Regions from separate parts of the Homo sapiens genome. Here regions 1 and 2 are each linked to region 3. Evidence: fine-mapped expression QTL. A gene starts in region 3. Each other region holds a variant in brackets. All regions are shown on one strand. Distances are between the middles of the regions.

The links.
Region 1: its variant is fine-mapped to the expression of RNF213 in whole blood (INTERVAL, PIP 0.90).
Region 2: its variant is fine-mapped to the expression of RNF213 in monocytes after interferon gamma (Fairfax 2014, PIP 0.95).

The regions. Positions count from the first base shown.
Region 1 is chr17:80,418,863-80,428,886 of GRCh38, forward strand. It overlaps ENDOV (endonuclease V), which reads left to right. Exons shown (of 10, transcript NM_173627.5): 3 at 2,966-3,100; 4 at 3,344-3,383; 5 at 4,658-4,770; 6 at 6,170-6,238; 7 at 6,630-6,758; 8 at 9,734-9,798. MIR4730 (microRNA 4730) reads left to right here and starts at 556; the gene lies at 556-631. RefSeq lists enhancers at 6,091-6,592, 6,593-7,092. The variant G/A (reference allele first, on the strand shown) is at 4,378.
Region 2 is chr17:80,361,540-80,371,512 of GRCh38, forward strand. It overlaps RNF213 (ring finger protein 213), which reads left to right. Exons shown (of 68, transcript NM_001256071.3): 39 at 195-349; 40 at 1,563-1,775; 41 at 2,070-2,251; 42 at 2,894-3,014; 43 at 6,209-6,309; 44 at 6,422-6,604; 45 at 7,963-8,132; 46 at 8,229-8,328. All of the region lies in intron 1 of RNF213-AS1 (RNF213 antisense RNA 1), which reads right to left. Among named protein-coding and RNA genes, the nearest start is that of ENDOV, 49 kb to the right of the region's middle. The variant T/G (reference allele first, on the strand shown) is at 4,279.
Region 3 is chr17:80,256,096-80,266,119 of GRCh38, forward strand. It overlaps RNF213 (ring finger protein 213), which reads left to right and starts at 4,757. Exons shown (of 68, transcript NM_001256071.3): 1 at 4,757-4,807; 2 at 7,479-7,683. The coding sequence starts at 7,587. RefSeq lists a cis regulatory region at 1,169-1,389, silencers at 4,136-4,485, 4,765-5,114, 5,495-5,634, 7,209-7,426 and enhancers at 7,348-7,637, 7,376-7,932, 8,788-8,867, 9,526-9,575.

The DNA.
Region 1 (10,024 bases), 160 kb after region 3:
TCAGTAAACCTGTTAGGAAAAAAAACAGGCCGGGCGCAGTGGTTCATGCCTGTAATCCCAGCACTTTGGGAGGCTGAGGCGGCTGGATCACGAGGTCAGGCGATCGAGACCATCCTGGCTAACACGGTGAAACCCTGTGTCTACTAAAAATACAAAAAAAATCAGCCGGGCATGGTGGCGGGCACCTGTAGTCCCAGCTACTCGGGAGGCTGAGGCAGGAGAATGGCGTGAACCTGGGAGGCGGAGCTTGCAGTGAGCCGAGATCGCGTCAGTGCACTCCAGCCTGAGCAACAGAGCAGGACTCTGTCAAAAAAAAAAAAAAAAAAACAGATTCCAGAGCCCTACCCCACTTACTGGGGGAAAAACTCTCCCAGAGTATAGCATAAGAATCTGCTTTTTAAAATAAGCTTTCCTGTGATTCTGAAGCAGAGCTGGGCTGGAGAACCACTGGCCTGCTTTTCCCACCGTGAAGAACACTGTCCTTAGCATCCCTGACAAACGATGGCGGAGCCCGTTCTGTGCCAGATGCTGAGCCATGGCTGGTGTGTGCTGCTCCGCAGGCCTCTGGCGGAGCCCATTCCATGCCAGATGCTGAGCGATGGCTGGTGTGTGCTGCTCCACAGGCCTGGTGGAGCCTGTTGTGTGCTGGACGCTGAGCAATGGCTAGTGTGTTCTGCTCCGCAGGGAGCTGACTCCTACTTGTCTGTGACTCCCATCGATCAGTTCTGCCTTCAGGTAGCAAAACAGAACGGATCTTCCCTGCCTTCTGCTTGTCAGCCCTTCTGCTGCTGGAAACAGCTGCCTGCTCCTTGACCACACTGTCCCAAGAGGCTGCGATGACGTCCAGCTTCTTCACTGGTCAGTGGCCCTCTGGTCATGCCCTCCGTTCACACAATCCATCTTTCCGTCTGCACTCAGAATCAAATGCAGGAACTTGGATGTGGTCTACCCAAGTCCCTAGACCTAACTGTCACCCACGCCATTTCAGTCGGTGTAGCTGGAAACACTGGTAGCTTTTGAGGGGCACCAGGTCACTGGCTTATGTTGAGATTGCTGGTCATCCAGACCTGCCCCCTACGCTAATCATACAGTGATTTTTCTTTTCCCAGATTTTTAATTTGAAAATGTACATACATCCCCCCAAATTGGAAAAGGATACGTTGGACACCTGTATTCCTTCTACTTAGGTTCAGCTGTTGCTGCTCTGGAATATTCTCTCTCGCGCACATGCGCTCTTTGTGTGCGTGTGTACCGTACATCCCAGCGACTGTGACAGCTCAGAAGACATCAGCAGGCCTGTCCTGAGAATGACATTCTCCTCCACAGCCACAGTGTCATTATCATACTGATTACACATCATAGTCATCCCATAATGTCACCTGAATGATAACATTATGGGAGAGATTCAGATGTAAGCAGCCACGCCCCTCCTGTGGGAACTCAGGCCACACTTGAATTCCACATGTCACTGTGCAAAGTGACTTTTACTCTGTGGGGATGTCAGTGATCCAGCCTGCTGGCTTCTCTGTGAACCCAAATTCTGTTATCAGAATGGACCCTCCCCACTTTGGGTCATGGGCAGATTTGATCAGTTTCCCCATTGAGTCATTGATGAAGATGTTGTGAGAATGATCCCCAACCCTCTGTGCTAATACAGAGCACTCCGTCTGCTTTGGTGTGTTTAATTATTGATCCAGCCACAAGTGAGGAGTGGAAGTTGTGATTTGAAAGCTGTCACCAAGAGATTTGGGGGATTCAGTAACAAAACTGCAGGAAGGTAGACAGGTCTGCAGAATGTGGACATAGTGGGAAACGTCTTCACATTAAGGGCAGTGTGACTAAGGAAAACACAAGGTTAGGAGACTCAGGCCTGCCATGTTGTGCTCTAAACTGCAGCCTCTGCCTCCTGGGTTCAAGCAGTTCTCCTGCCTCAGCCTCCCGAGTAGCTGGGATTACAGGCATGCGCCACCACGCCCAGATAATTTTGTATTTTTAGTAAACACGGGGTTTCTCCATGTTGGTCAGGCTGGTCTTGAACTCCCAACCTCAGGTGATCGTCCGCCTCGGCCTCCCAAAGTGCTGGGATTACAGGCGTGAGCCACCACGCCTGGCCAACACTGTGTCTTCTTTAAGCCTCCAACAACCCATGGAGGGGTGGGGTGGGGCATCGGCTTCAATACACAAAGGAGGAGACACCAGGAAAGCAAGGGGCAGGCAGAGGTGATGCAGCCAGCAGCCTTAGCCTTGCTTCTGATGAAGACCAGGTCCTGGGGGGCTCCCGCGGACCTGATCCCAGGGAATCCTCCTATGGACCAGGTCCCGGAGGCTCCTCCTATGGACTAGATTCCAGGGAATCCTTCTACAGTCTAGGCTTCAGGGGCTCATCCTATGAACTAGATCCCGGGGAATCTTCCTATGGACCGGGTCCCGGGGAATCCTCATACAGACCAGATCCCGGGGAATCCTCCTATGGACCAGGTCCTGGGGGCTCCTCATACAGACCAGATACCAGGGAATCCTCCTATGGACCAGGTCCCAGGGGCTCCTACTATACACATCAGGTCTGGGAGTTGGGGCTCCTCCAGTGGACCGGGTCCGGGGTGGGGGTTCTCATATGGACCGGGTCCCAGGGGGCTGCTGCTATGGACCAGGTCCCGGTGGGGGCGGGGTGGGGGTGCTGTTGCTACAGACCAGGTCCCGGGGGAGCTGCTGCTACGGACCAGGTCCTGGGGGGGTCTGCTCCTATGGACCAGGTCCCGGGGGTACCTGCCCACCACCAATTTGCAGGGTACATCTTCTAGTTCCTTCTTCCAAACCCATCATCTCATAGGTGAGGCAGGGAAGGGGAGCCATGAGGGTGACGTAAGGGAGAGGGAAGGATGAGGGGGGCAGGGCATGGACGGACTGGGGATGGAGCAGGTGGCCGAAGGCTGTGCTTCCCACTGAGCTGCGTGCCTGGTGTCAGGTGGTGTATGAGGAGAGCCGCATGGTCAGCCTCACAGCCCCCTACGTGTCGGGCTTCCTGGCCTTCCGAGAGGTGCCCTTCTTGCTGGAGCTGGTGCAGCAGCTGCGGGAGAAGGAGCCGGGCCTCATGCCCCAGGCAGGTGTCTCATCCCTAGGACGAGAGAAAGGTCCCTCCTTCCCCCTGGGGGAGGGAAGGCTGCTGCAGGTCGCCACCACCACAGTGGCAGGGAGAGACTCATGAGCTTCCTGGAAGAGAGGAATGAGGATTTCTAAAAAGCTGGACCCCAGAGACAGTGCCCCCTTCTTGCCTCAGGGATGGCCCTGTCCTGAGGGCCGAGGGGCAGCTCAGCTGACTGTGACTCTCCCTGTGGCTCCATAGGTCCTTCTTGTGGATGGAAACGGGGTACTCCACCACCGAGGTAATCCTGCTCTTGGAGGTCCAGGGAGGGCACTGTGGGGAAGAGCGGGGGGAGAGGGCACCTCTGTCGTCCCCCACAGAAAATGCTGGGCCCTCGGCCTCTGCCGCCAGCCCCCTCCAATGGCTTCTTTCTCGGCGCAACGGGGACGCGCAGTGCGCTCAGCCCCGCCTCCCCCACCGCCGGTAAAGGACTGTCTACTTTCGCTTCACCCCTTACCTCTTTCCTGTCCGCCACTGCCTTCTCTACAGTGCCCTGTGCTGGCTCATCTCCAGGTGCCACTATCCAGTTCTGACCTGATCACCAAAAGATGTCCCAGGGCCCGGGCTCAGAGTGGCCTTCCCTGCCAGCCGCCCAACCTGCATGGCCCGTCAGGCCCCTTGTCCACAACTAGACAGGTGTACCCAGGCCCCCACTGATGCCAGGAACCTTGGCCTAGGGAGCGTGGCTGAGGGAGATGGGCTCTTTTTTTTTTGAGACGGAGTCTCGCTCTGTCGCCCAGGCTGGAGTGCAGTGGCGCGATCTCGGCTCACTGCAACCTCCGCCTCCCGGGTTCATGCCACTCTCCTGCCTCAGCCTCCTGAGTAGCTGAGACTACAGGTGCCCATCACCACGCCCGGCTAATTTTTTTGTATTTTTAGGAGAGACGGGGTTTCACGTGTTAGCCAGGATGGTCTTGATCTCCTGACCTCGTGATCCGCCTGCCTCGGCCTCCCAAAGTGCTGGGATTTCAGGCGTGAGCCACCGCGCCCGGCCTAGGGAGATGGGCTCTTTTACTGTTACATACAGAGCTGCGGGCGGCGCAGCAGCACCCAGAGAGGGCCCAGGAGGGGTGACATTGGGCCTTCCTGGCCAGCAAGTGTGACTCGGCCCTGGCTGCTGCCCTCGCACATGGGTGCAGAGCCAAAGGGTTGTCATGTGCCGACCCACATGCTCGTGCCAGCGCTGGCAGGCCACCGTCGAGGGAAGAGGAAGCTGGGAGGTGCAGGAAATGACC[G/A]GAGAGCTGCAGTATCCCAGCACGCCAGCGAGGTGCTGACCCTGGCACTGACCGTGTCAGAGAGAAGGAGGCTTCCTCCACGGCCTTGCACCCAGGACATCGGGCACAGGGGGCTTTCGCCCAGGTCTGCTTGGGACTTAGATCTGGTTTCCCCAGCCCTCTGCCTGTCCACAGACCTCTGCTCACTTAGGGAAGCTTTTGGTAAGACTGGCTTGTCCTGAATCCCTGTGCCAGGCCCCAGCCCCACCTCCCCAACCCCACCCTCCTTTCTCTCTGGCAGGCTTTGGGGTGGCCTGCCACCTTGGCGTCCTTACAGACCTGCCGTGTGTTGGGGTGGCCAAGAAACTTCTGCAGGTGGATGGGCTGGAGAACAACGCCCTGCACAAGGAGAAGGTGAGGAGGGGCCTGCTGCAGGCCATGCCCGGCAGCTCAGTGGCGGGGCTGTGGTGGCCCTGGGCATGAGGACACTTCTGGACCAGCCCTTGCCTGCTGACGCTGCCCTCCTCATCCCTGGCTTGTGGCCTGGAGTAAGAAAGACCTGCTTTCCTCTGGGTGCTGCATTGCCTGTCTCAGCTGAGGGCGCTCTGAGCTCCTCTCCTGCCTCCTGGGTGTGCCTGCCTCTCTGGTCCCCCTTGCCTCTGAGCCACCGTGGCACACCAAGTAGGGCTAAGTCCTCCAGTTACTGGGGACAGGACGGGCTTCCAGGCTGTCCCGGGCGCACTTGGTGCTTTCCCCACCCCGCCTTGCCCCAGCCCCTGTCTCCTCCCCTGCATGCTCAGGTACCACAGCCTCCAGGCCCCCCTCCCGCCAAGACCTGCCTGGAGCTGCCACCCACACTCTTCCTACCTCACCTTCCCCTGCATCTTCCTCCTCTGGGACCCCATGTTGGCACTGGGAGTGAGACACTCACAATGGAGGGAGCTGTTGACACCCCCAGCTGTTTCACTGGATGGCAGATTCTGAGAGCAGAGACTGTGTCTCTCATTCCTCCTAGCTCTCAGGTGCCTGCATGGAGAAGTTGCTTAATAAAAATCTGTTGAGTTGATGGGGACCTTAGACCCACTCAATGAGCCAGTCCACCGCCGCCAGAAATACCAGCCTGTTGAGCTGTGTCAGATGTGCCCAAAGCAGGAGAGAAGCCACAGGAAGGAAGCGGGCTCAGCACCCATCACTGGGCAGTGGCGGCACCTGTGTGGCTGCCAGCCTGGCACAGCGGCCCTGGGCAGATTGTTGCCCTTGTTCTAAGCCCCATCATCAGGTTTGAACAGGGTCTTGTGGGCAGCACCCTCAGCTCAGGGACAAGACCACTTCACCGCCTGCACGCTCAGTGTCGTCTCAGGTGGTGTGGCTTTGCCTGGGCTGTGGCTCACCTCCAAGATCAGTCCCCTTCCCTTTCCTGGCCCAGTGACTGGGTTTTAAAAATAAAGAGACCTGGGCCGGTTGCGGTGGCTCACTCCTGTAATCCCAGCACTTTGGGAGGCCGAAGTGGGTGGATCACGCGATTAGGAGATCGAGACCATCCTGGCTAGCATGGTGAAACCCCATCTCTACTAAAAATACAAAAAATTAGCCGGGCGTGGTGGCACATGCCTGTAGTCCCAGCTACTCAGGAGGCTGAGGTGGGAGAATCGCTTGAACACGGGAGGCAGAGGTTGCAGTGAGCTGAGATCGCGCCACTGTACTTCAGCCTGGGCAACAGTGCGACACTCCGTCTCAAAAAATAGAGACTTGCCTTCAGCCCTTCACCAAGAAGAGAGGGGTTTTTTTCCCCATTTTTCCCTCCATTTTCCAGATCCGACTCCTGCAGACTCGAGGAGACTCATTCCCTCTGCTGGGAGACTCTGGGACTGTCCTGGGAATGGTGAGTAGCTAGGGCCCTGAGCTCCTCCAAAGCCCCGGGGTAGGGGATCCTTTGCAGGCAGACACAGGTGCATGCAGACACGCGTGCACTCACACTTGCCCACATCAACCCCCCGCCTGCCCGTCCATCCATCCTCCTGCCTCTGACTGAGTCCAGGGTGTGATGTTTGTGTTTCTTTCCTCCAGCCGTGCTGAGGGAGCCCACCCTCCCCCAGGGACAAGCAGCAGGAAGGCGCCCTGAGGGTGGGCAGGCCCTGGCCCCTGAGAGCACTGCCCCTTCAGCTTCCCCCTTGCCCCCAGGACATTTTGTCAGAGCTCCAGCTGCTGAGGCTGTCCTGACCCTGGTCCCGGTGGCCCAGCCCACAGGACAGCCCTCGCCTTCCTTGTCACAGGCCCTGAGGAGCCACGACCGCAGCACCAGGCCCCTCTACATCTCCGTGGGCCACAGGATGAGCCTGGAGGCCGCTGTGCGCCTGACTTGCTGCTGCTGCAGGTTCCGGATCCCAGAGCCCGTGCGCCAGGTGGGTGTGCTGGGGATGCGGGGAGGCAGCACAGGCTCCTCTGCTTCCTGCCACCTGCTGTTCAGGGCTCCCCAGCAGCTCAGCTGGGGTCAGAGTGCAGTGACATGAGGACGGGGGTTCCTGGGCCGAGGACAGGTCACAGACATCTTGCTGGAGAGCTTGCTGGGCCCTGCAGTCAGGACAGTAGACTGGGGGGTGCAGGGCTCCCAAGAGTTCATCCCCAGGCCCTGCACCCCATGCACTCAGCCTCCCAGCCTCTCTGAGCCTCCTGCACCCAGATACAGGCCAGCTTGGAGAATCAGTGATGTTAGCTCAGGTGGTGAGGTGTCCTGCCAGTTCCCAGCCAGCCCCTCAGGTCCCAGAGGGAGCAGCTGAACTTGAGCCAGGAGGCTCCTGCAGGAAAGCTGTGCAGGCCCCAGAGACGCCAGTCTGGGGACTTGGGTATGCCCGCCCCAGGACCCAGCACAAAACTGGTGTTCGGTCCCCCAGGAAGGGTGAGAACTCTGCTGAAGCCATCAGCTCAGCTGAGAAAGGACTCAGCCTGTGGGCCAGGGAGAGACAGCTGGCACGAGATGCCCACAGACAGCCTCGATAGGACCAGGGGACCACAAGACACGGGTGGATGCTGTCCCAGAGAAGCCCACAGAGTGAGGGTTCAAGAAAAGTCAGTCTTAGGAAGAGACCCGCTGGAGGAAGGGGAAGGACAGCCCTGGGCAGGAAGGAGTTTGATGTGCTCAAGAAATGGGGGGCCCGGAGGGTGGCTCACGCCTGTAACCCCAACACTTTGGGAGACAGAGGTGGGAGGATCACTTGAGCCCAGGAGTTTGAGGGCGCCCTAGGCAACATAGACCCCGTCTCTACAAAAAAAACGTAAAAACAAATTAGCCAAGTGTGGTGGTGCGTGCCTGTGGTCTCTGCTACTTAGGAGGCTGAGGCGGGAGGATCACCTGAGCCCAGGAGGTCGAGGCTGTAGTGTGCCCTGATTGGGCCACTGCACTCCAGCCTGGGTGACAGAGCAAGACCTTATCTCAAAAAAACTTTAAAAAACAAAAACTCAGCAGGAAGGTGTGGCCGGAGCCAGATGGCAGTGAAGTACAGAGTGGGTGGGAGCCCGTGAGCATCTTGGGGTGCGCCAGGGTTTCAGACGTCACCCACAGGGACTTGGATGGCTGTGAGTTGGCAGCGGGGCGCCCGCAGATTGGCCTTTTTAGGTGGCCGCTGTGCGTGCTGTGGAGGCTGTGGACGCAGGTCTGCACAAGCCATGCTGCTTCCAGCAGCCCAGCCCCTGAGCCTCCCTGGTGTCTGCCCCTTCCCCATCTTACCCCACCGCTTGCCCTGCAGCCTGCCCTGGGGCAGCCGCAGCACCGGTGGAAAACCCCCAGGCCACCACCTTCGGGCCGGGGCCTTCCGGCTGCTGGCGCGCAGTGTGGCCTCCAGGGGGCAGCAGCAGCCCACATACCACAATGGCCCTCGCCCTGGGGAGCTGTGCTCAGTGGTGGCGTCTGAGAGCGGGCTCCACAGCCTTGCAGGGCTTTGCTCAGGGCACAGGTGTGTGGACTCTCAAGCCTGTGAGCTGTGTCCCCAGCCCCCAGGAAAGAGGCCTTTCTTCCTCCATTCCAACTCAGCCGTGTGGTCTTCCGAGAGAGAACCCAAGAAACTGTCCCCCAGGCCTTCAGCCACAGGAACTTTAGGTCGTGCTGCTGCTGCAGACAGCACAGTTCCTGGAGCTCCTGTACCTTTTTCTGCCTCAGCGCGCCCCAGAGTAGGACAGTGGCCCATCCTTGCAAGGGAGGGGACACCTGGCCTGTGAGTACCTTAAGCATCTAGAAATAGAGCAAGGATCTGTGCCTAGCACCAGCAAAGAGCCTGCCAAATCCTGGGCCCACCCTCCAGAGGAAGGAAAGCCGCAACCAGTTGGGATATGCAGCCACCCCGTACCAGGAGCCCGCAGCTTCTTACTGTTGGGCGTGAGCCGAGGATCGTGTCCTGCAGGGCTGGCTCTGTCTCTCGGTCCATTTTCTTCCTGAGCTCACTCACCTCTCAACAGGTTCACCTCCTGCTCTGTTCCAGAAGGTCCTGGGAGAGCACAGACGGGGTTAGTGTTGGTCTGCTCTCTCCCTGGCTCCGCGCCGGGCCGTCTTGGTGGCCCCATGGTCACAGGCGCTGCGGCGCTCCTGGTTGCCAGGTCCAGGCTCTCCTGCCAGGCCAGGCTGGGCCGCTCCAGGGGAAGGTGAGAGGTGCTGGCCCCGCCTACCGCTGCCCCACTTCCCCCATGAATGGAAGCAGGAGCAGGCTGGGGGATTAGCCGTTGCTTTCCATGAGTCGTGCAGCCCTGAAGCTAATCTAAGCTCATCTGAGCTGGGATCAGGGGGACTTCCCAGGGCCAGACCCCCCATGCCCCCGGGGGTTCCCACTCAGACCTGAGCCCTGTTCAGTGTCCCTCCCTGCTAGGGTCTGCCCCCATCCCAGCCTGTGGCCCACCGCCCTCTTTTATCTTGGTGATTCTGGAGACGGGACAGGGGTTACTGCTGATCTAGTCAGGGAGAGGACAGACCAGCTGGGCTCAGAGCCCCCAGAGAAGCAAGTGTTAGCAGGGAAGCCTCGGCTTGCGCAGAGCCTACAGGGAAGCACAGACTGGAAACCAGTGAAGGCTGAGCAGCTCCAACTGCCACTGGTGGGGAGGAGACCCAGGACCCCCTCACTCAGCCTGTCCACTCACCAGCTACTCAGGCCCTTCAGGGACTGCCCAGCTCGGTTTGAGAGCTGCCATTGCGGGGCTTTGACCCCAAAGTCCCAGGCATGCCTGTCCCACACTCGCTGACAGGGCCGCGGCTCCTGAGCCTGAAGAACTGGCTGTGACCTGTGTGTCCTGAGTGGGCTTCTGTGGGGGATGGAGGCATTGCCAGCAGCAGCTCCTGGTGGGAAACTGGTCTAGAGACCAGCTCAGCACCCAGCAGCACGTCTGTCTCCCCCAGGCTGACATCTGCTCCCGAGAGCACATCCGCAAGTCGCTGGGACTCCCCGGGCCACCCACACCGAGGTGAGCACCCAGGGAGGCTGGGGCACTAAAGGGGCATCTCACAGACACCTGCATGGGCTGTTTCCGGTGGCTCAGCCTCTCCTTGTTGCAATATTGTGGCTCAGGACAGACAGTGCAGGGCCAGGGAAGGCAGGGGACACAGGAGAGGTCTTCAAAGAGGGAGGAGAGTGGAGTGGGGTAGACTCCTATTCTCGTGGGAACTCTCCAGAAACACCACTGCCTCCAC
Region 2 (9,973 bases), 110 kb after region 3:
GAAAAATATCCTAAATGTCTAGACAGTGACTATTCCTTCAATTCCCTACAAAATCAGGCAGTTGGTACCCCTTTGTCTACGAGCTCCCATTCAACAAGGCGTCCCCATTCCCCTTCACTCCGGAGCCCCCTGGAGGCAGGGGAGCGCCATGACTTAGACGCACTCCAGGCCGCTCCTTGGTTTCCTCTCTGCAGGACTGCCCAAGAAGTTCGTGGACATCTTTCAGCAGACTCCTCTGGGCAGGTTTCTTGCCCAGCTCCATGGAGAGCCGCAGCAGGAACTTCTTCAGTGTTACTTGAAGGATTTCATTCTCTTGACCATGCGTGTGTCAACGGAGGAGGAATTAAAGGTAGATGTTTAGATACTGGCTAAGGGTCAGGTGTAGAGCTTGCATGATGGGGACTGGATGCAGACACGGAGACGTTTCCTCAGCTGCCTGGAGCTGGTGCTGTGAAGTCTGGGAACAGAACATGGTCAGCGAAGGGTGCCGGTGGGTGAAGGGGTCGCCCAGTCTCCTCTCAATATTCAGTGCTACACCCTCAGTCCACCGCCCAGGGGCTCCTAAAACACGGAGCTTTCTGTGAACATGAGAAGACCTCCAATTTCCTTGACATAGCTTCTTTTTAAATGTTGAGTTTCTCTTGAAAAAAATTAAATACGTAACTAACCCTACAGGGTAAGAATAAACAAGTGAAATTCAATAGAAAGTCATACTTTTGACTACCTAAAAATTTTAAACTTCAGTACATAAAAAAGGAGAGTGACAAATTTAAGAACATCCTTACAGCTAATATGACTAGAGGTTAATATTCTTAGGAATCAATAAGAAAATACCCTAAGTTTTAAAAAATGGGTAAACGTTATAAAACAACAATTTTATAATCTCATTAAGCATATCAACATCCAGGAAACATTTGAAAAATTGCTTAGCCTTACTATTAATAGCAAATCAACACAACAGTTTTTAGATATCATGTTTACGTATTCATTTTGCAAAGCTGATTTTTAAAAACAACAGCCGCCGGCCAGTGCTGCAAAGAAATAGCCAGGCCACGCGGCTGACAGTGTAGCGTGCACAGTGGGCGCCCTGCAGGGCTGCGTGGCAGAACAGTTGAGCACCTTATCCGATCTGAACTGCTGACTCTGTCCTGAGGAAACTACTGGAGATGTGGACAAATATTTGGTTCACAGGGATGTCCTTTTCAGCTTTGCTTCGAAAAATAAGAAATAGTTTAATTGTCCGGAAATACAGGATGGGCAAATTAAAGTATGGCCGTATGATGGGTTATTGAGCAGCCATTAAAACCATGTTTTTCAAGTATACTCAGTCATAGGGAAAGTTCATGATGTCATGTTCAGTGGCAAAAAGCCCAGACGACACGGTGACCTTAACGTGGGAGGAGAGGCAGATAGAAAACTGGACAGAAGCAAACGGGACAGAATAGCACACATGGTTTCTAATTTCCTCTTTTATGGTTTTCCAATAGTTCGGATTTCCCACGGGGAAAACATACCATTTTTGTAATTTAAAAATATATTCTAAAAGCTTTTTTGAATCCCAGTTTCTGCAGATGGCTCTGTGGTCCTGCACTAGGAAACTGAAAGCGGCGTCAGAAGCGCCCGAGGAAGAGGTTTCCTTACCGTGGGTGCACCTTGCCTACCAGCGTTTCAGAAGCCGTCTGCAGAACTTTTCCAGAATCCTGACCATCTACCCTCAGGTTCTCCACAGCCTGATGGAAGCCCGTTGGAACCATGAGCTGGCTGGATGTGAGATGGTATGGCCCTCCTCCGCCTGCCCTGAGCAAGCCTTGTGGTGCTTCCAACTCCACTCTGGGAATGGAGAGCTTCTGGGGCTGTGTTCCAAGTGGGAGATTTCTTCACAAGGCACATACCTTAGCTGAATTCAGAGATGTTAAGGACACATCTCGCTGACGCTTCTCACATCCTAGACAATGAAAGTTTAGGTCGCAAGCCTGGGACACAAGTATACATGCAGCTAACAGCCGGGGCCTCTGGTGGGCCGGTGGGAGGGGCACCGCTCAGCCACGCCCTGCTGTCCGTCTCCCCAGACCCTGGACGCATTTGCCGCAATGGCCTGCACGGAGATGCTGACAAGAAACACCCTGAAGCCCAGTCCCCAGGCGTGGCTACAGTTGGTGAAGAATCTTTCCATGCCGCTGGAGCTCATCTGCTCCGATGAGCACATGCAAGGCAGCGGGAGCCTGGCCCAGGCTGTCATCAGGGAAGTCAGGTGAGACCCAGGAGCCCTCACCCACTGCTTCATCTGGCGCGCGCTCACCAGGAGCCTGCCAAGTGCCAGGCATGTCCATGAGAAGACGGGCAGGTGCTCCTGCCATGGGAGGGGCTCCGTCCTCACCCGTTCACTCCGCATTTGCCGAACCCTTAGTGAGTGCCAGGCGTCTCATTAGGGTGCTGGAGACACGAGAGGCGGCTGTGCATTCAGGGAGCGCACTGTGTACTGGGGCCGTAGAAAGGCAGACGGGCTATTGTGATGCCGTGTGAGAAATGCTGTGGTAGAAAGGACACCCCGGGCGGGCAGGTGCACAGAGCAGGACAGGCCCTCAGGGCCAGAGTCCACTTCCCTAAAGGTGAGGTGGGACTTGACAGGCGCAGGATCATGCAGTGAGCGGGTTGTGGTGGTACCCCATGCAGAGGCATCACAGTGGGACACCGAGTCCCAGCTAAGCTGAGCGTCTGAGAGCGAGAGCTGGGGGCGGGCCAGGAAGTATGTCACATAGGGCTTGCTTGTAATCCCAGCCGCTGGGCCTGGACCCCGGGTCCCGCATCTCTTCTCCCGTCTCCCTCCTCGTTTCACCCTTGGGTTCCTTGGTGGGAGCCGAGTGAGTGAGTGAGTGGCGCCCTCTTTTGACAGAGCCCAGTGGAGTCGGATTTTCTCCACCGCACTCTTCGTGGAGCACGTGCTCCTAGGAACCGAGAGCCGCGTCCCCGAGTTACAGGGGCTGGTGACCGAGCACGTCTTCTTACTAGACAAGGTGAGTACTTGGGCTGGCCTCAGCACATGCACGGATCCACCCTTTTCCGAAAGGAAGAACAGCACTGACAGTGATCTGCGGCTGGGAGACGCTCTTTTGGCTCTGACCGTTTTGTCTAGACATGCAAAGGAAGGTGATTTCATCACTAGGCCATTACATTTTCCATGTTTAATTGTTTAATTATTTACCCTCTGCTGATTGCTAAGTCAGAGCATATCATTTAGAAGTGATTCCAGGAACTGTGTGCAGAAAGGGGCTGACGCAGGGAACATGCTTGTGAAACCTTCGGCAGGGATTACCTGGCCTTTGGAGTGACCCCAGAACAGACCACTAGCCTGGCCATCTGTGGAAGCTGTTACCATTTTCATAGTCATGGAGACAAGGATGTCAGAGAATGCCACCGGGGTTTGGGGTCTTCAAAACAGTGCTGTCAACAGAACCAAGGAACAGGAAGCCACCATGCCTGTCACTCAACACCCTTCATAAAGCTACTAATGTGGGGTGGTCTGCAGAAAGAAACCTGTGACCCTACAGTGATGCCCCTCTGTGGCCACGCAGTGGTGTCCAGCAACAGTGGCCACTCAGCCAAACACAGCCTCAGCCTCTGCCTCACCCGCACCCGTGACCTTCACGTGAGCACATCCAGAGCCCTCACCGCCAGGGGGTCTGGAAGAGGCAGCGCTGGCTGTCCGACCTTTGGAGCACAGGAAGGTTTACTAAAAGGAGGCCAGCATGGATGCTGGATGTGTTGACTCTGACCTATCAAAACATCAGCGGCTTAGACACAGTATCAGCTGATTTCCCACCCAGGATGGGTATGAGCAGCCCAAGGCTAAGGTACCAGCTCCCCGGAGGCTGGCACGGAGTCAGGTGCCCACGCTCCGTCTTGTCCCTTCATTGTCCCTAATGTTCAGCTTCCACCCCGTGGCCTGGCGTCACAGCCTGTGGGACAGAAAGCAGGGGAGGTAGAGGACAGGCCGTTTTCCTTAAGAGCCCAATCCCGGACACGCACACGCCACACCAGCTCGTGTCTCGTGGTCCTAAACTTAGGCACTCGGCCTTATCTGGTTGCAAGAAACTGAGGAGTTTTTCGTGGCATGGTCATGTTCCAGGTGGAACTTGAGTTCTTCTGCTGAAGGAAAAGGCGGAGAGAGGATAGTAGGACACAGCCGGTGCCCCCCTTCCACCCTTTTCCCCACACCCACACAGCATGCAGCCTCTCCAAGTCTCATCATGTCTCGGCGCTCTGGGAGATGCACAGGGC[T/G]TTCAGCCAGGTCCAGCGTGGGTCATAAGGGCCAGGTGCCCATAAACCCAAAGGTAAAGGAGCTGGCCCCTGCCTGCTCACATGCCCACAGGATTTGGGAGGTTAGGAACGTGGGGAGGGTTTTTTTTGGCGATAAAATGGCCTCAGAAACTTACTGGGTTTCTGGTTTATTTCCTTCCAGTCAGATCTCTGTGCAGGTAACCACAGCCAAAGACCTTACCTCGTTAGTTTTCCTGCTGGAAGCCTGACTTGTACCCCTACCCAGCCCCCGCTGAAGAGCAGCCCTTGGGACCATTTGAAACAAGAGGCTTGGGGGAAAGCCCTGCCTTCCGCCGTGAGGCTGGCTCCCTCGGCCGGGCAGGAAGTTGTCGACGGAACTGCTGCAGGATGGCACGGGTGGGACTGCGGGCATGGCTGGCTTTTAGTTGTTTTGGATATGTACCTTGAAGGGGAATTCCTGGATCATTTGATAACTCTGTTTAACTTTATGCAGAGGCACTGTATTGTTTTCCACGGGGGCTGCAGCATCTTTCTTACATCCCCACCAGCCAGGCACCAGGGTCTGAATTTCTCCACATCATGGGCAACACCTGTTACTATCTGATTTTTTTCATAATGGCCACCGTGATAATTCATTGTGGTTTTTATTTGCATTTCTCTAATGACTAGTTATGATGAGCATCCTTCATGTGCTTGTTGGGCATTTGCTGTCTTCTCTGGAGAAATGTCCATTCAAGTCCTTTGCCCATTTTTGAATTGGGTTGTTGATTAACAAAGTTATTAGGATATTAAAAATACACACATCACTTCCAAGTAAGATTAATCCCAGCAATTCAAGGATGGCTCAAAATAAAAAAAAAAAAATCTGTAAATGTCATCAGTTATATAAATTAAAAGATAAACTCTATATGATCATTTCAAAATGTAGAGAGAAAGCATTTGATAAAATTATTTGGAAAGAAATACCCTTGTCAAACTTGGAACAGGAAGGAACTCTCCTTGAGCTCACAATGCCCAAGGTAGACATAATATTAAGATGTCTATACCAACATCATGCCTGCCCATCAAATTCCATTAGTACAGCCATTAAACTATCTTGTACAGTGATGATGTGTATTGCCTAAAAACCAGTGTTTCCACTTCTAACTATATCCTAGAGAAACTTCTCATTTGCTCTCAGACATATGCAAGAATGTTGAATACAGGACTGTCAGGAATTGCAAAAAACCTAAATGCCCATTAACCAGCAGACAGGTAACTGGTGTCTTTATCAGTGGGTACAGGAGTGATCTGGACCTAAGGTATCATGAAGAGAATGAGTTGCAGAAGCCTTTATACAACGTGGTATCATTGATATCAAGTTTTAAAACATTCAAAATAATAACTCCATGTTCAGATATGCTTACAGCTATCCTAAAAGCAGACATTTAGAAATATAGTTATCTCTGGGGAGGGACGGAGGGATGTGAAGTTGTAACTATATGCATAATGTTTTGTTTCTCTAAAAAATGATCTATCGCAGCAGCTTGGGAGGCTGAAAGAAAATTTTAAAAAATTTAAAAATTTTAAAAAATGATCTAAAGCAAATATTCCATAAATGCTGAGATTTCTTAAAGCTTGGTGGGGGGTATACAGATGGTCATTATTATTACTTAAAGTTTGAAATATCTTAGTGAGAGCGGAGGAGACCTTAAAAGAAAAAGAAGAGGGAAAATCGTAACTTGAGAATGTAGTCCCCTGACAAGCAGCATAATCACAAAACGAGCATTCAGAGTTCAAGCGTTAAACACAGGATCACAAAGGCCTCGCACCCCACACCCCACACACACGGCGCAGCCTTGGCCCTGAATGTGGTGCTCCCTCTGTCGCCCGGCCTGGCCGCCCTCAGCCCTCCCCCCTGCTAATGACTCCTGTCCCTGCCTTTCTTCAGTGTCTTCGAGAGAACTCTGACGTGAAGACGCACGGGCCTTTTGAGGCCGTGATGCGCACTCTCTGTGAATGCAAGGAGACAGCCAGCAAGACCCTCAGCAGGTGAGACCTTAGGTTTGGATCTGTGAAGGCGAGAATTCTGAACCTCTCGTGGTTTTCACTTCTTCTGGCCAGTTTCTCTGCTTCAGAACTGATTGCCCTTCTTGGATTCTAGGTTTGGGATTCAGCCGTGCTCCATCTGCCTGGGAGATGCAAAGGACCCCGTCTGTCTGCCCTGCGACCACGTGCACTGCCTGCGCTGCCTCAGGGCCTGGTTTGCCTCAGAGCAGATGATATGCCCCTACTGTTTAACTGCCTTGCCAGACGAATTCTCTCCAGCTGTTTCCCAAGCGCACAGGTACAACACCCTTTCTCTCAAGAAAGCATCCTTTTTTTCATTTTCCTTTTTTGGCAAACACAATATTCAGAAATATAAACTCTATTAACCTTCATTTGGTAGAAAACCTGACCTCAGAGAACTATCATAAGAGACGCCACTTACGTACTTTCATAAATATCTGGTATCTCAAGATTATTCTCTCCCCAAGACATACACATACAGATTTCAGACAACAAATTCAGAGGAACTAAGCCAGAAAGTCTTAACAAAGGTCCTCACCAGAGGCCCAAGGAATGTAGACGCCAGTGTTTTTTTTTTTTTTTTTGAGACAGTGTTTCACTCTGTTGCCCAGGCTGGAGTACAGTGGCACGATCTCAGCTCACTGCAACCTTCACCTCCTGGGTTCAGGCAATTCTCCTGCCTCAGCCTCCCAAGTAGCTGGGATTACAGGCATGCACCACCATGCCCGGCTAATTTTTGTATTTTTAGTAGAGACAGGGTTTCACCATGTTGGCCAGGCTGGTCTCGAACTCCTGACCTCAGGTGATCCACCCGCCTTGGCCTCCCAAAGTGCAGGGATTACAGGCATGAGTGACCACACCTGGCCGACGCCACTGGTTTTAATGCATCAGTATCATTCACAGTCACTGACCTGAGGATCAACCCACTTCTTGTCTAGCTTTTTGGAGCTGGTTAAAAGCAGCTCTGGCTCTCTGGACTCAGCAGGCCTCAGCCCGGCTCTGTGAGTGGTTGGTTTTCTTTCCTTCCCCTTCCCCCCTTCTCAGGCCTCCTAAAAGTGGGGCACCAGGCAAGCCCAGTGGATGGGTTCTTTGACATACTTTGGGATATTGAAGGGTATTGTTGCCGGGTCCAAATGATCAAAGTGTTTCCAGAAAGGGATGCATGTAAATATCATCTGCTGAGGTTTTGAAGACTAGCTCTAACGGGTGAGAGGAGTGACTTGAATCTTTCAATTTAAAAGTAAAATGCCAGCCAGGCATGGTGGCTCACGCCTGTAATCCCAGCACTCTGGGAGGCCGAGGTGTGTGGATCACCTGAGGTCAGCAGTTCGAAACCAGCCTGGCCAACACGGTGAAACCCCATCTCTACTAAAAATACAAAATTAGCCAGGCGTGATGGTGCGTGCCTGTAATCCCAGCTACTTGGGAGGCTGAGGCAGGAGGATCACTTGAACCTGGGAGGTGGAGGTTGCAGTGAGCGGAGATCGCGCCACTGTACTCCAGCCTGGGCAACAAGAGTGAAACTCCGTCTCAAAAAAAAAAAAAAAAGTGAAATGCTGTGCAAATCTCAAGTCATTCTGTAAGGAGGCATTTGGGAAACACCATCCACCTGTCTTCTGTTTCTCGTGTTCTAAGGGAAGCCATTGAAAAGCATGCCCGCTTCCGGCAGATGTGCAACAGTTTCTTCGTAGACCTGGTGTCCACCATTTGCTTCAAGGACAACGCTCCGCCTGAGAAGGAAGTGATTGAGAGCCTGCTCTCTCTCCTCTTCGTCCAAAAGGGGCGCTTAAGAGATGCTGCCCAGAGTAGGTTGCTTTCTTCCTGTAAACCTAGCCCCTCATTTCTTCATCTCGCTTCTGCATGTCTCATGCAGTGAGCTGCCTTTTTCTTTCTGGTTTAAGGACACTGTGAACACACAAAATCTCTCTCTCCATTCAATGATGTTGTGGATAAGACTCCTGTCATCCGCTCAGTGATACTGAAACTGCTTTTGAAGTACAGGTAAGAACAACATGGAGACTTGCTTCTGGAAAGCCCTGGCTTTTTCTCTTCATCGCAGCGTTTTGTTACCAAGTCTTCTTGTCGTGACTAGTAGCTAGTACATGATCTTGGGGAGCTTTTTCGGTGAGACACAGCCTGGTTACTTGTACTGGTTGTGTATTCTGACATTTTCACATATAGGCACATGAGTTTAGTATTCCCACAAGCACACGCATCTAGCAAGAAGCCAACAGTGCCGTGAAGGGACCACAGTGGCGTGAGGGACATGGAACTCAAGAGGCCAGAATCTGTGGTGCTGAGCCTGGTTCCACAGCAGCGCAACTTTCTGATTTTTCAGATGGTAGCTTAGAATCCTGCTCACCCTGAATGTCCTAGATGTCTCCTAAGTTTCTATTCCCCTGAACATGGGCTCTATTTCCTTGGAAAGGATGTTGACATCCAAGAATAGTATCACCTGTGGTACTTGTATGGATCTAATATTGCAGTTCTCAAAGTGTTGGTATGGACCCTTGGGTGTGAGGTAGGTCTCTGAGGTTAAAACTATTTTAAAAATTAGATTACTAAGATAAATTTGCCCTTTTTTAAAAAACATGTTGATACTTATGATGATGTTACAAAAAGCGGTGATGAGTTAAACTGCTGGCCCCTCACGTGAAGACACAGTAGCTGGAGGTATTGTTTTCTTCACCGCCATGCACACGTGGTTTTCTTCATGCCAGTTTCATTTTAGTTTTACTAAATCTTGACTCTTGAGGATTTGACTTTTCAACGTTTTGTGGAAATGGGAAGCACACACAAAACACTCCCACTACACACCGGAGTAGACAGTTGCCTCACAGAAAATCACTCATGACAAGCCCTGGGTTATCAGCCGGCTGCTGTGTTCATGGACCGCCACCCGTGCTGGGAGGAAGGATGCACATGATACAGGTGTCCAGGGCTGGGCAGGCCTCTCCTGGAAATCAGCAAAGTGAGCCAGCCTCAGCCAAACAACTGACAATGTTGGTTGGTGATGATAACATTCAAGCTTTTAAGCTGAAATTAAAATTTTGAAAAGCTTATATTCTCCACTATGAGCTTGTGAGCTTTTGAATACTTAAAGACATTTTGGGGCAATTTGTGGTGATATTAATGAATATGGATTTTTTTTTTTAAAACGTAGAATACAAATGTGTCAACCTTTACAAGACCTGCACAGCCCAGTGAACCAATATTTTCCAAATGACCAATGCCTGATGTCATGAAATCATGTGGGTCAAAAAAGAAAAAAATCTATTTAAAGTATGGGCAGACCTTTTTGATTTTAACATAATTGACTGAAAAATGCACTGATACAGTTTCAGGCTCCACATTGCAACTAACCTCTAGACATGACCATTTATCACTGTGGGCACAGCATTAAGGAATAATAGCCACAATCAGCTGCAAAAACTATTAAAATGTTCCTCGCTATTCCGAGTATATGAGGACAGATTTTCTTCATGTTCTCCCATATGCTGCAGCGATGGGGAGCAGGGCAGGCAGGCCGCTGACTTCCAGGAGCCAGGCCCCAGGGCCAGCACAGGAATGGAAGACCAAACCACTCTTCTCACGGATTCATGTTTTGGAAAATATTTTAAATGTTATTTAACATGTAATAGCTTTA
Region 3 (10,024 bases):
CTTGCCCAGGCTGGATTGCGGTGGCTTGACCAGTCGGCTCTCTGGCTCCAGTGATCCTCCTGCCTCAGCCTCCCAAGTAGCTGGGACCACAGGCATGAGCCACCATGCAGGGCAAATTTTTATTATTTATTATTCATCTATTTATTTATTTTTGAGATAGAGTCTCACTCTGTGGCCCAGGCTGGAGTGCAATAGTGCGATCTTGGCTCACTGCAACCTCCACCTCCCGGACTCAAGCAGTTCTCCTGCCTCAGCCTCCAGAGTAGCTGGGATTGCAGGCATGCACCATCATGCCCGGCTAATTTTTGTATTTTTAGTAGACATGGGGTTTCACCATGTTGGCCAGGCTGTTCTCAGACTCCTGACTGCAAGTGATCTGCCCGCCTCGGCCTCCCAAAGTGTTGAGATTACAGGGGTGAGCCACTGCGCCCAGCCACATTTTTAAATTTTGTGTAGAGACAGGGTTTTGCCATGTTGCCCAGGCTGGAAGTGGTGTGTTGTTGTTGTTGTTGTTGTTGTTGTTGTTGTTTTGTTTTGTTTTGTTTGTTTTGAGACTGAGGCTTGCTCTGTCGCCCAGGCTGGAGTTCAGTGGCGTGATCTCGGCTCACTGCAAGCTCCGCCTCCCGGGTTCAGGCCATTCTCCTGCCTCAGCCTCCTGAGTAGCTGGGACTACAGGCGCCCGCCACCTCTCCCAGCTAATTTGGAAGTGGTGTTTTTATAAAGGGAAATTTGGTCATCGATACACATGGAGCATGTGCTGTGAACATGAAGGCAGGGACAAGCCAAGGAACTCTAGCGACTGTCAGCTGAAGAACGTCGAGGTTCAAACGTTAATAAAGGCGAACTTGTTTCTCATAAAGGTTTGCAGCCTGCAAGGAGGTTTTTTTAAATTTTGTTTTGTTTTTGAGACGGAGTCTCATCCTGTAGCCCAGGCTGGAGTGCAGTGGTATGATCTCGGCTCACTGCAAGCTCCACTTCCCGGGTCCCGGTTCAAGCAGTTCTCCTGCCTCAGCCTCTCGAGTAGCTGGGATTACAGGCACATGCCACCATGCCCAGCTAATTTTTTTTGTGTTTTTAGTAGAGATGGGATTTCACCATATTGGCCAGGCTGGTCTTGAACTCCTGACCTTGTGATCCGCCCGCTTTGGCCTCCCAAAGTGCTGGGATTACAGGCGTGAGCCACTGAGCCCGGCCGGAGGCTCTTCTTGTAGCCTGGGAAGCATGGCCGGCACTTGGAGGGAGGGAGGGAGGGAGGGAGGGAGGGAGGAGTAAGACAGGAATTTACTCTGAAAGGGTTGGCCAAGTATACATGCTCAATAGGTTACAGGAGGGGCTAGGAATATTCATGAAGGAATCGCATATGCATGAGTATTAGGCTTACATGTATGAAAAATACAGCAACATATGACCCATGTTCACTTTGGGGAGAAAACTTAACAGTTAAATGCATTATAATCAGGCCCTATACATGAAAAGGTGACATGTAGGGTACAAGTCCACGAAGTGCACATCCCCAGGAGGCCCGTCAGAACCACAGAAACAAGACCAGGTGCCGGGTGGGCACAGTTAGTGGAGGCATCCTCAGCAGAAGGCCCGTCAGAACCACAGAAACAAGACCAGGTGCCGGGTGGGCACAGTTAGTGGAGGCATCCTCAGCCTTTGATAGGACGGAGTGGTGATTAGTAAGAGGGCTGGGGCGGGGAAGCAGGTGGGACACGGCCAGCCTCTGTCCTGCTGTGGCTGGGACTTGAATATTTTGTTGTTGTTGTTGTGTTTTAGCCAAAAGAGGGTCTGTTAGTCTCTGTCAAAGAGTTTCAGGACTTTTAATTCAGTCCACACCAGTGATCACCAGGAGCCAGGAGCGAGGCCTGGGACGGATACTCTTTATAGCCTCGGCAGGATCTAATGCTGCCAACGCCCTGATCTTGGGCTTCCGGCCTCCAGAGCTGTGAGACGGTACATTTCTGCAGTTTGAAGACTAAACTCTGATTTTTTTTATCTTGCCCAAATTCCTACCTAAGGCGTCTGGGGAGTCATACTTTACAAACCATACGTTCTCAGTGTCAAGCGTGTCCGTGTGAAGAGACCACCAAACAGGCTTTGTGTGAGCAATAAAGCTTTTTAATCACCTGGGTGCAGGCGGGCTGAGTCTGAAAAGAGAGTCAGTGAAGGGAGATAGGGGTGGGGCCATTTTATAGGATTTGGGTAGGTAGTGGAAAATTACAGTCAAAGGGGGTTGTTCTCTGGCTGGCAGGGGTGGGGGATACAAGGTGCTCAGTGGGCCAGGATGAGCCAGGAGAAGGAATTTCACAAGGTAATGTCATCAGTTAAGGCAGAAACAGGCCATTTTCACTTCTTTTATGATTCTTCAGTTACTTCAGGCCATCTGGATGTATACGTGCAGGTCACAGGGGATATGATGGCTTAGCTTGGGCTCAGAGGCCTGACACATGGCCTGTGACAGAGCCCTCAGGAGGCCCTGAGAACATGTGCCAAGGAGGTTGGGTGCAGCTTGGTTTATACATTTTAAGGAAGCGTCAGACATCAATCAAATGCATTTGAGAAATACATTGATTTGGTCCAGAAAGGCAGGAAAATTTGAAGCGGTGGGGGCAGGGGGCTTCCAGGCTGTAGGTAAATTTAAACATTTTCTGGTTTACAATTGGTTGAGTTTATCTAAAGACCTGGGATTAATAGTAAGGAAATGTTCAGGTTAAGATAGAACACCGTGCTGAGCAGCACTCCGGCCCAGCACTATTACGTGGGCAAGAGGCAAAGCTCCAAGGGCTTAGTGTACCTGCTGCAGCAGCTGGTAGGGGCAGACTGTGATCACAGAGACAGCACTGTCCCGCAGAAAAATCATGCAAGCCACCAACGTGAGCCATGCAAGTCATTTAAACATTTCGACTAGTCATACTGAAAAAGTCAAAAGAAACAGTTGAAATTAACTGTTTAGAGACAAAGTCTCACTCTGTCGCCAGGGCTGGAGTGCAGTGGTGCAGTCAAGATTGGTGGGAGGAAAAAGCAGGTTTTAATTGGAGACCCAGCAAAGCGAGAAGATGCCCAACTAGCGTTCTAAAGTGTCACCTTGGCTGGGCGCAGTGGCTCATGCCTGTAATTCCAGCACTTTGGGAGGCCAAGGCAGGTGGATCACCTGAGGTCAGGAGTTTGAGACCACCCTGGCCAACATGGAGAAACCCCGTCTCTACTAAAAATACAAAAATTAGCCAGGCTTGGTGGCGGGCGCTTGTAATCCCAGCTACTCGGGAGGCTGAGGCATGAGAATCACTTGAACTGGGAGGTGGAGTTTGCAGTGAGCCAAGATCACGCCACTGCACTCCAGCCTGGGGTATAGAGTGAGACTGTCTCCAAAAAACAAACAAACAATAAATAAAGTGCCACCCTAAAATTAAAAATTTATCCTCAGGTTTTGTGTGTTTGTTAGTTTTTGAGGCAAGATCTCACTTTGTCATCCAGGCTGGAGTGCAGTGGTATGATCACGACTCACTGCAGCCTGGAGCTCCCTGGGCTCAAACGATCCTCTTGCCTCAGCCTCTTCAGGTGCACCACCACGCCCAGCTAATTTTTTTAAATGATTTTTTTTGTAGAGATGGGGTCTCTCTATGTTGCCCAGGCTGCCATCGAGTTCTTCTAGGGAAACTTGCCGTGGGCACCGTGGGGAGTGGGGTAAGGGCAGGGTCTGTGTCTTGTTCCCATGGCTGTCGTGGGCAGTTGTCGGTTAGGAGGGGTGGCTGTCGAGGATGTTGGACTAATTGTTGGCGACCCCCCGCCCCAAGCAGGAGCATTCAGCTGGGGTTCCGCGCCGGGAATTGTTTCAGGATGAGGGTCCCCTCTGGAATGCGCAGAGGGGCGCAGTGTCCAGAGAGGGACGGGATGAAGGGGTGAGAGGAGAAGGAAGAAAAAGAAAGTGGGTGATTTTAAAACGGAGGTCCCTGGTCACACCATGAGCCTCACAGATGGGAAAACTGAGGCACGGGGGATGGTGCGGACCGCCGTGGCCCCTCCATCATCAGTGACAGAGCGCTCCGCGCGGGGCCGCGGAGGTCCCTTAATCTGCAAAGGCCCCCACGCGGCGCGCTGACGACGTCCACTGCACCCGCCGGGCGCCCTCTGGGCCGCTCCCAGGCTGGCCGCCGGCTCTGCGCGGCCGCAGACACTGTCCGAGGTGCTGGGCGCCGGGGCGGGGGGCGCGCCTGTCCCGCCCCACTCGGCTGCTCGGGCCTGCCCGGGGTCTGGGCTTCCGGGAGACCCGCATGCGCCCCACGCCTGGCGGGAACCGAGGCCCCTCCCGCGTCTGTACCCGGCGCGCAGCGGCCCGAGGCGCCTCCCGGGGGCTGGGGGCCCGGAGTCACTGGGAGGCGCCACCGGCGGGGAATTCCGCACACGCCTGCGCGGGGCCGGCGGCGGCGGCGGGCAGGGCGGGGCCGGCGGCGGCGGCGGCGGGCAGGGCGGGGCCGGCGGCGGCGGCGGCGGGCAGGGCGGGGCCGGCGGCGGCGGCGGCGGGCAGGGCGGGGCCGGCGGCGGCGGCGGCGGGCAGGGCGGGGCCGGCGGCGGCGGCGGCGGGCAGGGCGGGGCCGGCGGCGGCGGCGGCGGGCAGGGCGGGGCCGGCGGCGGCGGCGGCGGGCAGGGCGGGGCCGGCGGCGGCGGCGGCGGGCAGGGCGGGGCCGGCGGCGGCGGCGGCGGGCAGGGCGGGGCCGGCGGCGGCGGCGGCGGGCAGGGCGGGGCCCAGGGCCCCGTGACCCGAGGGGCGACAGCGCGCGGCAGGCGGCGAGCTCGGGGGCCGCAGGTGCGAGCGGGCCTGGAGAGTCTCCCGGGGCGGGGAGCGGGCTAGGATACAGTGGGCCCCGCGGGCCGGCGGGCCGGGTCCCGGGGAGCGGCGCCTGCGTCCGGATGCCCCTCCCGGCCGCCTCTTCCTGCCGGCTCCAAGTTTCGGTTTCGCCGCCGGGGTGCCCGGTCCAGCCCCGCCCGCGGCGCCCACTGACCCTGTTCCCCGGCTGCGGGAGGGGTCGGGGTGGGGGCAGCGGGCACGCCTGGGACCCCGGCGACATCCCCGGAGCGCAGAGCGCGGAGGAGGCTTTGCGCCCCGGCAGTGCTGCCCCCGGGAAGTGGCCGGGGCACGGGGGGTGTAGTGGAAGGGGACAGCCGGACCCGGGCCTGCAGGTCCGCCCGGGAATCCTGCGCCTGTACGAATGGCAACAACGGAAAAGTGAAGTTGCAAAAACAGACTCCTAACTTTTACGAGGGAGGCATCGCCCCGTCTGAACCGCACCGCGCAGCGTCCTTCCGACTTGGCGAAGTCGCCCGAGCGCGGGGCTCAAGGCCAGGGTGGGCACCCCTCCCGGATGGCTGCCTGCAAGCCGGCGGGCCGGGCCCTGGGGGAGTCCAGGGCGGGAGGGGAAGGAGCTGTGCAAACATGGTGGTGGCCCTTCCCTGCCCCCACCTTGTTGACTTTGGTTGTGGTTGGGGGATGGGCTTTGATTTGGGTGGCAGTGTCTGTGCTTGGGAAAAAATGTCAGAGAAAAGACAGGAAGCGGATTGAATGCAACAGTGTTGGGTGCCTGGGGCTCTCTCTTGTGTCTTCCGGCCCCTAGAGCAGATGGAACAATAAGATGCTTTAGGGGGCCGGGCGCAGTGGCTAATGCCTGTAATCCCAAAACTTTGGGAGGCCAAGGCGGGTGGGTCACCTGAGGTCGGGAGTTCGAGACCAGCCTGGCCAACATGAAACCCCGTTTCTACTAAAAACACAAAAAATTAGCCGGGTGTGGTGGCGCATGCCTGTAACTCCACCTACTTGGGAGACTGAGGCGGGAGAATCGCTAGAGCCCGGGAGGCGGAGGTTGCAGTGAGCTGAGATTGCCCACTGTACTCCAGCCTGGGTGAAACTGTCAAACAAACAAAAAATGCTTTTTGGAGGATTTTTCGAGTTTTCTGGTCTGTGGTTCCCCAGTGTAGCATTGGAGAAGGAAACACTTCGGGTGGAAAGAAAGAGGCCTGGGCGGTGGGGAGTCATTGAAGGTGTTTGAGGGAGGGAGTGTCCACTGGTGGTTGTTTCAGGTAGAGTGTGGAGGGGAGGAGGTACGGTGGGAGCCAGGGCTTGGCTGTGGCAGGGGTAGGGGAGTTTTAAACTCTCCTTCTACTCTGAAGGAGAGATAATTTTAGTCTCTGGAATAAAAGGGCAGCAGACCTGGAGAAAAGGGATGCAAATTGTCCCATACACCTATTGGGAACCTCATCAAAGAGAAGACTGCAGAAGACAGATGATTGATGTTTTTATGGCATTGGGACAGGGGCTTGGGGCTGGAGAGGGGAGGTGTGCAGGGTTGTCTTGTTGTGCAGATAATCACTCAGGTGATCTCAGAGCTGCTCTCAGAGGAACTGGCGAGGCCGCAGGCACTCCTCTTGTGTGTCCCTGGGACCGTTCCTAGATCCCTCTAGGCAGATAATGGGGCCTCAGAGAGAGCTTCTGCTCCATTCTGCTGTTTCATGGTGTGGATTTCCTTTATAGCCTTTTACAAAAGGATAGCTTCCCAGAACTCCTGAGTATGTGGTTGCTCTGAATAGCCATCTCAAAATTGACCACAGAATCTGTTTTGGGGTGGCATAGATTAGTCTCCCACACAGGTCAAGCCAGGGAACCCCACCCAGTGCCTCCGTCCCTCGTTCAGGCCCAGCCTGAGTGAGCCCACCCCAGTGGGAGGAGAGGGCAGGGCCAGGGCAGGGAGGGGGCCTGAGTGTCCTCCTGGCTGCTGAAGGCACCAGTCAGCTGCCGCTCCAGCCACTGCCCCAGTGGAGTTCTTTGGTTCCAAGCCAGCAGAAGAAGGTGGTGGGTGGGCCAGTGTGCCCTGAGGCTTCTTACTGGGGAGGGAGAGAGTCAGGTCCTCCACTGTTAGGTGGCCAAGCGCCCAAACGCCATCTCCACTCTCACCCTGGATGCAAGAAGTGACCCCGGAGGCCTGAGTCCTGGCCTTGGTCTGGTTTGATGCCATCCACCGCAGAGGCTGTTCTGAGGGCAGGTGGTCAGTGCAGAGTGGCGCGCTTTGTGGATGGCAGCCTCCCCCCATTACTAGGAATCTGACTGCCAGCCCAGTAGCCCTGGGCTGCCTGCTCAGGCCCCATCACCTGTGGGGCAGGTGCTTTAGTCCCCTTAAGAGGATGAGGAGGGTGAGGCATCAGCAGGCTGAGCGCCTTGCTCAGGGCAGGCCGTGGGACCCTGCCGAACAGCACGTGGCTGCCCCACGCCTGCCTGGAGCATCCCCTATCCCCACCCAGCCCAACCCATGTTCTCAGCAGCAGGGATGGTTCTAGGCTGGCTGAATGAGGGACCAGGGCAGAGACTGCAAAAGCTTGAGAGCCAAGGGGGCAGCACAGAGCGGGGAGGGGCTGGGCTTGGGCTGTGCTCCTGTTGGGTTTCCATTAACCAGGGGACCAGCTGGGCTGCTGTGATTTCACTTTCGCAGAAAATGAAACTGAAGCCGTGGTCACGTGACAGGACATGTAGTATATAGCAGGCTGCCAGCGACTCCTGCTCTTGCTTCTGGATCTGCAGGGCAGTCCCAGCAGGACCCATGGAGTGTCCTTCGTGCCAGCATGTCTCCAAGGAGGAAACCCCCAAGTTCTGCAGCCAGTGCGGAGAGAGGCTGCCTCCTGCAGCCCCCATAGCAGGTGAGGCCCAGGGGTGCTGGTGGAGGCTGGGGCAGTGGGGACCCCTGGAGATGTCTCACCTCCCTTCCAGGAAATGGAAACCCTGGGCAGCAGGCAGCTCAGGTGGGGCCGAGGTCCTCTGTGGCTACTGAGGCTCTGTGGCTCTGAATAGCCATCTCAAAAGTGACCACAGAGTCTGTTTTGGGGTGGCATAGATTAGTCTCCCACACAGGTCAAGCCAGGGGACCACCACCCAGTGCTTCCGTCCCTCGTTCAGGCCCGGCCTGAGTGAGCCCACCCGAGTGGGAGGAGAGGGCAGGGCCAGGGCAGGGAGAGGACAAAACAAGAAGTTTTGTCGGGGTCTTTGCTGGAGGTTCCTGCTTTTGAAAATTTTCAGTTTCATTTCCTAGAGAGAGCTCACGGTTTTTCTTCCCCTTGGGAATGAGAAGTGTCGGGCTGAGCTGAGGGCTTCATAGAGAGTTTCAGAGAATGCTGCAGGGAAGCAGAGTTTGAGGCTCTGCAGGGGTTGAGAGCTCTGCCTGGGTTAGTTTTTGAGGGGCCGTGAGGGGGCCCCAGGACCTGTCCAGGCACCTCCCTGGCTCGGGAGGCCAGTGGAGAGACAGGAGCGGGGCAGTGTCAGGCGGGCCTTGCCTGCTGAGCATCTTGAGTCCATTCTCAATTTTGTTGGCTTCTGGGGCCTCAGACTGGTTCCCCTCCTCCCGGGTTTTAAACACCAACCCTAAAACTAGCAGCCCCCAGACCTTCAGCCTTTCTGTGTCCAAAGCCCAGCCCCACCTCCACTGGTGAGGGCACCTCATTCTTCCAGCTGCTTCTATCGGACCCATCACCCCGGGGCCCTCTCCTTCCTCCATGACCCACATGCAGAGGGCCCTGCTGGTCTCCCCGCCTCCACGCTGCATGCTGCCTTCCTGCTTCCTGCTCAGCACAGCAGACAGTCAAACCACAGACCCCCTTACAAGATCCGCCCCTGCCCCCGCTGTAACTCAGGACAAGCAGGAGCCCTTACGGTGGCCACGAGGTCCTACATAGACGGCTGCCCACCCCATTCCTCTTGGCTCCCTCTCCTGTCCCCAGAGCCCACCACCTTCTGGCCCTTCCTGGATACACCAGGTGTGCTTCCACCGCAGGGCCTTTGCACCACCCTTCCCCAGAGGGCGGCCTGGCTCCCTCCTTCCCCTCTTTCAGTCTTTGCCCAGCTGCTCGCCATGGGGTCTCTCCGATGTTGTCCTTCAAGGGTGTGAGCCCCAGTCCTTCCATGTTTGTTTGTTTTTTTTTTTTTTTTTAGAGGGAGTTTTTTTGTTCTTGTTGCTCTGGCTAGAGAGCAGTGGCGAAATCTCAGCTCACTGCAACCTCTGCCTCCCGGGTTCAAGTGATTCTTCTGCCTCAGCCTCCCAAGTAGCTGGGACTACTGGTACCCACCACCACTCCCGGCTAATTTCTGTATTTTTAGTAGAGATGGGGTTTCACCATGTTGGCCAGGCTGGTTTTGAACTCCTGACCTCAGGTGATCCACCCGCCTCGGCCTCACAAAGTGCTGGGATTATAGGCGTGAGCCACCGCGCCCAGCCTAAGGGCTCCACTTCTATTAATAATAGTGCGGAGAGCACTGGTAGTGCGCAGCATGAACTGTTTCTAGAGGCATGCAAAGCAAATGCACTTGAGACTCCTAATTCACCACTTGTAAGAGGCCAGGAATTTGGTGACTCTGTACATGATGCTTTTGAACATTTATCGAAAACCAAGAAATACAGTGATGCTGGCTGGTTGCCCCCAGCGTCACTGAGAAAGTGGTGAAAAGGATGAACTCAGGGATTCGATGTCTGGGCTGCAGCTCTGCATAAATGATCTGAGAGTTTCTTAGTGTGCCCTGGATCAGAATCTTCTCTCCTGTAGCCACAGGGTTGAAATTGTAGAAAATCGAGCACCAGCTCTCACGCGATTAGCTGAGTTAAAATGAAAGCTGAGCTTCCAGGCATGCAGGGCGTCTGCTGTTAAAGTGGGGGCACTTAAGCCGGATGCCGTGGTTCACACCTACAACCCCAGCATGTTTGCAGGCCAAGGTGGGAGGATCACTTGAGCCTAGGAGTTTGAGACCAGCCTGGGCAATGTAGAAAGACTCCATCTCTGTATTACAAGAAAAAAAAAGTGAGGACATTGGGTGGCAAAGGAAGGGATCCTTCAAGTTGGGATGGGGACATGGGAAGCCCATGGCCAGGCTGGAGACATTGAGTTCCAAATGATATAAAGTTGAGTCAGGTTGAGTTTAGTAGTGTGGGCCCACTAGCAGAGATTATGCATTTCATGTTGCAGCTGGTAGAGTTAGGAAGGCCTCTGAGTCTTT